Linked DNA regions of Homo sapiens: region 1 is linked to region 2. The links come from fine-mapping of genetic effects on gene expression. A gene starts in region 2. The other region holds a variant in brackets. All regions are shown on one strand. Distances are between the middles of the regions.

Evidence for each region. PIP is the estimated chance that this variant, and not a neighbour inherited with it, causes the effect.
Region 1: its variant is the best candidate, but not a certain one, in a credible set for the expression of PEX14 in whole blood (TOPMed, PIP 0.52).

Annotation. Positions count from the first base shown.
Region 1 is chr1:10,504,828-10,510,198 of GRCh38, forward strand. All of the region lies in intron 2 of PEX14 (peroxisomal biogenesis factor 14), which reads left to right. Among named protein-coding and RNA genes, the nearest start is that of PEX14, 33 kb to the left of the region's middle. RefSeq lists enhancers at 2,517-2,576, 2,607-2,666, 3,841-4,529. The variant G/A (reference allele first, on the strand shown) is at 2,238.
Region 2 is chr1:10,472,789-10,478,159 of GRCh38, forward strand. PEX14 (peroxisomal biogenesis factor 14) reads left to right here and starts at 2,162. Exons shown (of 9, transcript NM_004565.3): 1 at 2,162-2,214. The coding sequence starts at 2,179. RefSeq lists enhancers at 1,271-2,236, 2,059-2,248 and a silencer at 2,249-2,418.

The DNA of each region.
Region 1 (5,371 bases), 32 kb after region 2:
CCAGGCTGGAGTGCAGTGGTGCCATCTTGGCTCACTGCAACCTCCGCCTCCCAGGGTCAAGCTGTTCTCCTGCCTCCTCCTCAGTAGCTGAGATTACAGGTGTGCGCCACCACACCCAGCTAAGTTTTTGTATTTTTAGTAGAGACGGAGTTTCAACATGTTGGCCAGGCTGGTCTCAAAACTCCTGACCTCAAGTGATTTGCCCACCTTGGCCTCCCTCCCAAAGTGTTGGAATTACAGGCATGAGCCACCATACCTGGCCAATGATTATTTCTATAAATGGTTTCATTTAACTAGCATTTACCGACAGTGGATTTTGATGGAGAAGGAGAATAAAGAACAGGTATTAAACATCTTTTAGGCTAGGTATGGTGGCTCACACCTGTAATCCCAGCACCTTGCGAGGCTGAGGCAAGAGAATTGCTTGAGCCCAGGAGTTTTGAGATCAGCCTGGGCAACGTGACGAGGTGCCATCTCTATAAAAAATGCAAAAATTAGTGGGACATGTGGCTCGAGCCTGTAGTCCCAGCTACTCTGGAGGCTGAGGCAGGAGGATTGCATCAACCCAGGAGATTGTGATTACAGTGAGTCTGGGTGACAGAGCGAGACCTGTCTCAAAAACAAAACACAATCTTTTTTCCCCCCCTTTACCATACTTTTCCTTTGCTGTATCTTGTTGTCTTGTGTGTACTTTGAAATTTTTATTTTATTTAAATTTTATTTAAATTTTTATAGAGACAGGGTCCCACCGTGTTGGCCAGGCTGGTCACAGTCTCCTGGGCTCAAGTGAACCTTCTCTTTAGCCTCCCAGAGTGCCAAGATTACAGGTGTGAGCCACCCGGCCCAGCTTGTGTGTATTTTTTTTTTTTTTGAGACGGAGTCTTGCTCCGTTGCCCAGGCTGGAGTGCAGTGGCATGATCATGGTTCACTACAACCTCCGCCTCCCGGGTTCAAGTGATTCTTGTGCCTCAGCTTCCTGAGTAGCTGGGATCACAGGTGTGTGCCACCATGCCCAGCTAATCTTTGTATTTTTAGTAAAGACAGGGTTTTGCCATGTTGGCCAGGCTGGTCTTGAACTCCTGGCCTCAAGTGATCTGCCCGCCTCAGCCTCCCAAAGTGCTGGGATTACAGGCTTATGTGTACTTTTGAGAGTCGTTTAGAGTCTTTTGTGAAATGAAGCAGGGGTATCAATAAGAACATATTTTTAAAACTGTGTCAAGAGCTTGCATTTGGCATCCCTGTCTGACCAACTTGCTGTTTGGGTCCCATGGAACGTACTCACCAGGCTCTTGGTGCTCTGAACAAGGCAGGTCCTCAGCCAGTCTCTCCCACACTCATCTGTACCCCAGGAGCTAGTTTGTCCCTAAACCTGTGTCCTTGTATTAAACATGATGTCAACAGGTGAACTAAGAGTGTGAAGAGAGGGTTCTGCAAATATAATGTGTTCTTTTTTTGTGTGTTTTTTTGAGATGGAGTTTCGCTCTTGTTGCTGCCCAGGCTGGAGTGCAATGGCATGATCTTGCTCACTGCAACCTCTGCCTCCCAGGTTCAAGTGATTCTCCTGTCTCAGCCTCCTGAGTAGCTGGGATTACAGGCATGCGCCGCCATGCCCGGCTAATTTTTTGTATTTTTAGAGACGAGGTTTCTGTATGTTGGTCAGGCTGGTCTTGAACTTGCGACCTCAGGTGATCCGCCCGCCTCGGCCTCCCAAAGTTCTGGGATTACAGGCGTGAGCCACCACGCCTGGCTATAATGTGTTCTATAAAAAGAAATGTGAAAAGAAAGTTTTATGAAAACTAAGTTAAATGCTTTGCTAAATGTGAATTGCTAAAAACATTGCTGTCAAATTAGGTGTGAGCGAGATGACAGTTAAACATTAGAGGAAGATCATAAACATCTAGAAGGATTCTGTACTTTGATTGCTTTACTGATGTCTTGAAGTTCTTACTTTGCTTTAGAAATTGTGGAGGCTGTGTTATGGGTAGGGTTTATGCAAGAAAGACGTCTGGGAACTTCAGTCTGTGGGCCCACACTCAAAGCAAAGGGCTTGGCTTTACATCAAAAGATCAGCAGTGACTGAATGTTTATAGGTTTTCAGTTAATAGAAAATGTTTTCAGTATGTGGAGCAGGTTCCATTTTTGATTCCCTGCTTTAACTGATTTTTTGATTAACCGAACAATTACTAGCTCCGATCACATAGGCCAGGAGGGCTTCTACTCTGTAATATTCTGGCCTC[G/A]CTGTTGGTGTCTTTATTTTGGTCTCGCTGTTGGTGTCTTTATTTTGGTTACTTTGTTTGATTCCAACAAATTTGTGAGAATTACTCATTTTGCAGTGAGGAGACTGAGCCCAGAGCATTCAAGTTCCTACAGCTAAGAAGTGGCAGGACTGGGATTGAAAGCTGGTGTCCATGCTGCTGAACCTGTGCAGACGGGGAGAGCAGGTATGGGTGCGGTGTGGACCGCGCTGTCAGGCACACTAGCGTGCGTGCGGGGCGCCCGCTGCACAAACGTATCTTCAGCCGATGCTCAGTGCTGCCTGGTGATTCTGTACCTCCTTTCTGAGGCTGCTGCCTTAGTGTGCTCTCCGTGGTTGGAGTCTTTTGTGTGCATCTTAGCTGTTGAAAAGGCGCCTATTAATTTATCACAGGTGATGTGTGCCTCCTTGTGCTCAGAGGAGGCGTCTGCACCCATGTACCTCACTAATGACAGGTTATGGGATGGAGAGGAGATAATAGGATCTTTTCATGTGATGTCTATATAGCAAGGTGCTATGCCCCTGGTAGCTTCTAGGGGGCAGCAGCCGCTTGTTGTTCTGTCTCTTGCTGGCGGGGAGAAGGTTGGACAATTGAGCAATTTGCTCTGGACTCCAGCTCTTAAAGTGGTGCCTGCAGGTCTCCAGGGAGTCACTGGAATCCGCATAAGTAAAGAAAATACAATATCCAGGATCTTTTATTTCTACTTTCTCTGCCCCCTCAGGTAAATCCTTTATCTGTGTTTCTATCAACATCCACAAATTCCTCATTGTCAGAGTTAAGGCAGCAAAGTTCACCTGCTTTGAAGATAAGAGAATAGAGATGTCTTTAAGAGAGTAAAATCTTTCTGTCAGATCTTACTTGTTGCCAAGAGCTAGACATTGATAACCCACTCAAATAATGTTTAGAGGTTTTGAAACTTTCCCCCATGGGCACGTGTCTTTAATTCTGTTGGGAATACCACTGTCATATGGTTGATTACCTGTTCTTCCTGTCAGCATTTCCCCCCAACCCCACTCCCTCCCCCTATCCAAACTAGTCTTACAGAGGTTTCTCTTCAATTCTAAATGACTTATTTCAGAAACACATGAAGGGGAACATTGCAGATGTGCCATTTTTTTGTTTTTTGTTTTTGTTTTTTTTTTGAGACGGAGTCTCGCTCTGTCACCCAGGCTGGAGTACAGTGGTGCGATCTCGGCTGTCTGCAAGCTCCGCCTCCCGGATTCATGCCATTCTCCTGCCTCAGCCTCCCGAGTAGCTGGGACTACAGGCGCCCGCCACCATGCCCTGCTAATTTTTTTGTATTTTTAGTAGAGACGGGGTTTCACTGTGTTAGCCAGGATGGTCTCGATCTCCTGACCTCGGCCTCCCAAAGTGCTGGGGTTACAGGCGTGAGCTGCCGCGCCCGGCCTTGGATGTGCCAGATTTTTAGATTGGGGGCCCAAGACTGACATATGGGCAACTTGTGCCTTGTCAGAGTGAGTCCCAGCTCCCTCCCCCCCAGAAGTGCACCTCCTACTGTGCCCTCTGAATGCTCCTGCCTGCCAGATCTTCCAGCTGTGTGGCTGAGGCAGGTGCCCAGGAGGAGAAAGGCTGGTTGCAGGCAGAACCAGATGGTTGCAGTCCACACGGGGAAGCAAATTGGCCGTGACATTTCAGCCATGTGAGGTTTATTTAGGATTAGCTAAGAATTCTCAGCCTTGACTCCACTGAGGGAGGAGCGGGTGACCTAGGGCCACTTTCTTGTGGCTTTGCATTCTTTCAGGCTTTCATCTGAAGATCCCAGGGTACTGGGGAAGGGTGGGAGTTTCCATCCAGCTCCACTGCAGAGAGTGGCATTCCTGAAAGACAAAGGCATGCCTCCTTTTTTTTTTTGAGACGGAGTCTCGCTCTGTCGCCCAGGCTAGAGTGCAGTGGTGCGATCTCGGCTCACTGCAAACACCGCCTCCTAGGTTCACGCCATTCTCCTGCCTCAGCCTCCCGAGTAGCTGGGACTACAGGCGCCCGCCGCCACGTCCGGCTAATTTTTTTGTAATTTTTTTTTGTTGTTAGTAGAGATGGGGTTTCACCATGTCAGCCAGGATGGTCTCAATCTCCTGACCTCATGATCCGCCTGCCTCGGCCTCCCAAAGTGTTGGGATTACAGGCGTGAGCCACCGCGCCCGGCAAAGGCATGCCTCTTAACCTCACCTCTCCAGCTCTCTGTTGTCTGAAAAATGGCAGTTAATAGAATTTGTTAATAAACAGAAGAAATAACGAGAAATAGTGGCACATCATTTGACAGTAAGGTGGTTTATAATTTCTGTTTATCAAATGATTCTCATTATTATTATTTCTATTGGATTTTTGAAGAATTCAGCCTGGTCCCCAGAGCCCCATTTGTAAGGCATTTTATTTCTTTATAATATCTAGAAATAACTTCAGTTCCAGTGAAATCCAGATCTGTGGTCCCATCCCACTCCCCAGCCCTGGTTCTCTCCCCTTCCTCTCTGCTTGTCTTCTGTGACCTCAGCGGGCTCCATCAGGTGGGGGTATCCCCTACTGACCAGACTGGCAGAGCTAATGCCGGCTGGAGGAACGCTGCCGTGTTTGTTTTTGCAGTTCCTGGATTTGGTTTAATGTACAATTGATTTTTTAAATGTATTTAATCATTTTTTTCTTACCTCTTAAGGATTAACCTGCACAAACCTCATTTTATCCTAAGTGTGGCTTTGGGAGGAAGGGAGGAGAAAATTGAGTTTCTCCAGCTTATTTTATTCTTTTACGCTTTATTTTCCAAATGGCTTTTCCTGCCGAAGCAGCTTTGTATAATACAATGTATTTTCGTGGCCATTACTTACTCATTACTAACTGGTCTCTCCTGCTTCCCTTTGTCTGTGAACTAAATACAGGGGGCCTCAAGATAATTGGTAGCTCCATCACTGACCCACCAATTATAGATCAGCAGGGAAGGCAGCCCAGGGATGGTTTGTGGTTGGCACAGGCTGCCCACCTAGAAATGTGAGTTATTCTCTACCTGCCACCAAGTTGGGCTTGACTAGATCGATCCTTTCCTAATTTTGGACTTTGGCATCTCTAATTGCATCACACGGCTCCCTGGTTTACAGGTTTCAGCCTCA
Region 2 (5,371 bases):
ACGCATGTATACTGTATTGAATTTTTAGAGCATTCCTATTCGCATATGAGATGCATAATGCTAATACAGACACCCGCATGTTTCCACCCATTCTATTTCCTGCTTCAACTGTGCAAATTAGTTTGGGGTCTCAGAACAAAACGCTTAAATAAATATAGTAAGCATTAAAGTCTCAAATGCATCGGAGAGGAAAGGGGAAATGCGACTCGGCACTGTTGGAGATTGTTCAGATGCCTCTTGACAACATATTCATCTTTGTTTTAATACTGCTACTATGGAAAAGTTTGTTTTTTTCCTCCTGAAAAATAAACATCTAAGATTAAAAGAATAGTAATAAAAATGATCAAAAAGTTCCTCTCTTAAAAGAGGGCATTTTATGTAAACTAGAAGTAATTATCTGCTCATATTTATTCATTCGGGGGACACTTTCCTTCCTTGTTTCTTTTTTCTTTTTTTGAGACAGCGTTTCGCTCTGTCTCCCAGGCTGGAGTGCAGTGGCGCGATGATGGCTCACTGCAGTTTTGATCTCCTGGGCTCAAGCAATCCTCCCACCTCATATTTTGTTTATAAAAACGTGGGCAAGGGCCCCGGGGGCGGTGGCTCACCCCTGTAATCTCAGCACTTTAGGAGGCCGAGGCGGACAGATGATCTGAGGTCAGTAGTTTGAGACCAGCCTGGCCAGCATGGTGAAACCCTATCTCTACTAAAAATACAAAAATTAGCCGGGCGTGATGGCGCACGCCTGTAGTCCCAGCTCTTGGGAGGCTGAGGCAGGTGAATCGCTTGAACCCGGGAGGCGGAGGTTGCAGTCGGCCCAGATCGCACCATTGCACTCCAGCCTGGGCGTCAGGAGCAAGACTTCGTCTCAAGCAAAAACAAAAACAAAAGCAAAAACAAACAAAAAAAACGTGGGAGAGGAAATTGGATATTATCTCAAGAAAAGTTTAGACATTTAAAACAGCGTTTAGTAGGAGGAATTATTCATTAAGTCATCCCTTTTAAGCAGTCTATATTGATCAAAACACAACTATAATAGGAGCTGGCGGTTAACTCTAATGTATGTATCCTTTTTCATATAATTTCATTTTTTATTTTCTTATCTTATTTTTAGACAAGGTCTCGCTCTGTCGCCCAGGCTGGAGTGCAGTGGCATAATCATAGTTCACTGCAGCCTCAACCTCCTGGGCTCAAGGGATCCTCCTGCCTTGGCCTCCTAAAGTGTTGGGATTACAGGTGTGAGCCACTGCTCCCGTCCAATATTTAATTTAAAATCTAACAATTAAAAAAATCTAACAATTCAACCAGTGTAAAATAATGACGTTTTGTAGAAGCCTCTTCTCTTCAAAATGCCCCCTTTTATGTTCTCCCAATAGACCTGCACACTTATCCGAGTCCTATCCCCATAATACTGTAATTGTAAGTGTGTTTGGCCTGGGCGTGGGAGTAGGGATTGAGTCTTGAATGTTTTTATTTCAAGGCCTACCAAAGTCCCTAGCATATAGTAGGCACTCAATGAATGGAACTGAACTGATGTCTAAAAATTAATTTCCAAGTTTCTTCGCATTCATCCATTGGCAAGTCCCTAAATGTGCCCATGGCACTGTGGGGATGGGCAGAGATTAACTCAATAAGAATAATATGGGCCGGGCGCTGTGGCTCACTTCTGTAATCCCAACACTTTGGGAGGCCGAGGCGGGCAGATCACCTGAGGTCGGGAGTTCGAGAGCAGCCTGACCAACATGGAGAAACTCCATCTCTACTAAAAATACAATGTTAGCCGGGCATGGTGGCGCATGCCTGCAATCCCAGCTACTCGGGAGGCTGAGGCAGGAGAATCACTTGAAACCGGGAGGCTGAGGTTGCGGTGAGCCGATATCGCGCCATTGCACTCCAGCCTAGGCAACAAGTGCGAAACTCCGTCTCAAAAAAAAAAAGCAAAACCAGAATAATACACATATAACAACGCAAAGAAGATATAGACTTGGGATCTTCCTGGAAAGCAGAGTCTTAACGGAAACTATGCAAGGTGACCCGGACACCCGGGCTCCACCCCTCTGCCCCAGTCCCCTACATCGACAGGCTCTGTTCCGGCTACCTTAGTCTGGGCGGGAGGGCGAGAGCGAGGGCGCCTGGGAGAAACCTCGCCCAGCGGCGGTTGATTAGTCAGGCCTCAGAAAGATGGCGTCCTCGGAGCAGGCAGAGCAGCCGAGCCAGGTAAGGGGAGTGGGACTGCCCCGCTGTGCGGCGGAGACCCCGGCTGGAGGGGGCGCTCAGCATACGGCTGGGAGCCGGGTAGGGACCCCGAGTCTCCGAAGCTGGGGACCCCGACCTCTTGCCCCCTCCTGAGCCCCGCCCCTCCCCAGGTCCTCCCCACCCGGCCCCTCCCCCCGGTGACCCCTCTTTGACCACATTCCGGAGCCCGGGCTCTGGTGTTTGGCTGTGCCCCCGGGTCCCCACTTCCCGCCTGCCAGCACCTCTGGTCCCACTTGAGCTTGTTGGGGAGGGTGACGGGACCCTTGGGAAGTCCCCAGCCTTGAGCTGCGAGGGCTTGAGAAGGAGAGGATAGATCGATCGTTCCCGGCTGTCCCCTCCGGGGAGGGGCCTGTTTCCATTAGGGTTCCCACTCCCTCACGGCCTCAGCCTCCTGGAGCGGCTGCCAGCCTCTTCATCTGTGGTCACCTTTGCGCTTCTCTCGTCAAGTTGGATAGTCAGAAATAATCTAGTCGAGCCCTCTCAGTGCGTTGATAGGAAAGGGACGCACTGTGACTAACAGACGCCACCAAGCTTTTGGCTGAGGACCCATCCTCGCTTCCCTGGGTTTGGTTTTGTTGGCCGAGGGCTCCGCTCTAGCTTTTCACCTGCAGATTCAGACAAATCCCACTCCAATAAGGGGACCATAAGGACCAGCGTTGACGCCTGTGCCTCTGCGGCCGGGAGGCAGTGGATGATAAGGTCTCCGAAGGGGTTTATAGTCCAAAGGTGGGGTAGGGTGGGGTGAGGAGAAAAGGGCTAAGAGACATCTTACATTTAACTGCCTGTGTGGTGTCATGTTGAGCACAAATTACATCTATTATCTCGTTTAGTGTTCACTACAACCTTTATGAAGTGCAGGCTACTAACCTCCATTTCACAGAAATGAATACTAAGGGTTTGTGACATGCCCCAAATCGTGTGCTCTGTTGAGCCTGTATTGAACCTGTGTGACTCCACTAGTCATCCATACATTTTTGAGTTTAGTTAGGATTAGAATGAGGAAGAAGAAAATAGTTTCAACTTGGGGCCTCATTCCTCCTCTCCCATCTCCTTGAAGCACCTCTAAGAGTTTTCAGCAACTTACTAGTATTTCACTTCCTTCAGAGGCAGAAGACCACCGCTTAGTGTTTCTTACTGTCTTATTCTGCACGTCTGTTACAAGAATTGAACTTAAAGGAGTTGGTGTGTTCCCCCATACCAGTTTCTATTAGCAGTGTGAATGATTCAGGAAGAAGATGTCTTGATTGTAAAACATGGGAGATAACAAGGACTGATTCTGGCCTTCTCACTGTCAGGTGTTCTGGAGTTTGGCAAGTGTCTCGAGAGGAGGGCCTCTCCTTTCTTGCCTTACCACATTTAGTTTGCTGAAATACTAAGGCATCTTGGGGTCTGGGTTTCTCTGAATTGTTTTGTGTTAGGAATGCCCACAGGCTGGGATTGAAGGGTGTCCTCAGTTCCTGATTCTTTTTTCTTTCTTAAGACGGAGTCTCTCTCTGTCGCCCATGCTGGAGTGCATTGGCGCAATCTCGGCTCACTGCCTCCCGGGTTCGAGCAATTCTCCTGCCTCAGCCTCCCAAGTAGCTGGGACTACGGGTGCCTGCCACCACACCTGACTAATTTTTGTAATTTTAGTAGCGATAGGTTTCACCATGTTGGCCAGGCTGGTCTTAAACTCCTGACTTCAAGTGATCTGCCCGCCTCAGCCTCCCAAAGTGCTGAGATTATATGCGTGAGCCACCGTGCCCGGCTCTGTTCCTGATTCTTATAGGACATTTAATTTGCCAGTGCTGTAAACAGTACTAAAAATCTTGCCACTTGGAGCCACTGTTATGCCCAAGGATTCTTTTGGTTTTGCAAGTTTGCCCTCTCTGTATATGTATTTAATAGAAAAGGATCTAAGGTCCTTTAAGGGGGCATGGCCATCACTTGTTTGATTTTCAGCTCTGCTTCTCCTTTGCCCTCCTTTCCAAAGCTGGTGGAGGTAGGATTGCCACAGAACATGCTGGCAGCCTGGGGGAAAAACTTGAACTTTTCTTTTTTTTTTTTTGAGACAGAGTCTCGCTGTGTCACCCAGGCTGGAGTGCAGTGGCGCGATCTCTGCTCACTGCAACCTCCGCCTCCTGGGTTCACGCCATTCTCCTGCCTCAGCCTCCCTAGTAGCTGGGACTACAGGCGCCCGCCACCATGCCCAGCTAATTTTTTGTGTTTTTAGTAGAGATGGGGTTTCACCGTGTTAGCCAGGATGGTCTTGATCTCCTGACCTCATGATCCGCCCACCTCAGCCTCCCAAAGTGCTGGGATTACAGGCGTGAGCTGCAGTGCCTGGCCAAAACTTGAACTTTTCATAACAGACTCTATGGCTATCTAACAAGAAGCAAATGCACGCTTTTTGAATGAACCAATGCTCTTCAGCAATTGCCTGTTTCATTTTCAAGTCTTGATCAATCCAGTTTCCCATTTCTCCGATTAAAGCAGAGTAGGATTGAAAGGATTGTTTAGCTAATTCCCCCACGCCTTGTTGTGTAGGGTTAGAACTGTGGGGCTGAGCCAGTATTCTGTCTTTCACAGAAAGTTTGTTGGTTAGCCTTGTCATATCAATCTCTGGTTTCCAGCTATTAAAGGTGAATAACCTTCTCTTCCCTTGAGAGGCAGTGTAGAATAGCGGTTACAAGTATAGGCTCTAAAGCCAGACCCACTGGCTTGGAATCCTAACTCCACTAACTTACCAGCAATGTCATCTCGGACAGATCTACTTAATTTTTCTAGACTTAATTTCTCCATGTGCAAAACAGGGAAAATACTAGGACCTATCTCACAGAGTTGCTCTGAGGACTAAATGAGTTATTTATTTATTTATTTATTTTTGAGACCGAGTCTCACTCTGTTGACCAGGCTGGAGTGCAGTGGCGCGATCTCGGCTTACTGCAACCTCCGCCTCCCAGGTTCAAGTGATTCTCCTGCCTCAGCCTCCCAAGTAGCTGGGGCTACAGGTATGCACCACCAGGCCTGGCTAATTTTTTTTTTTAAGTAGAAATGGGGTTTCACCATATTGGACAAGCTGGTCTCAAACTCCTGACCTCAGGTAACCTGCCCACCTCGGCCTCCCAAAGAGCTTGGT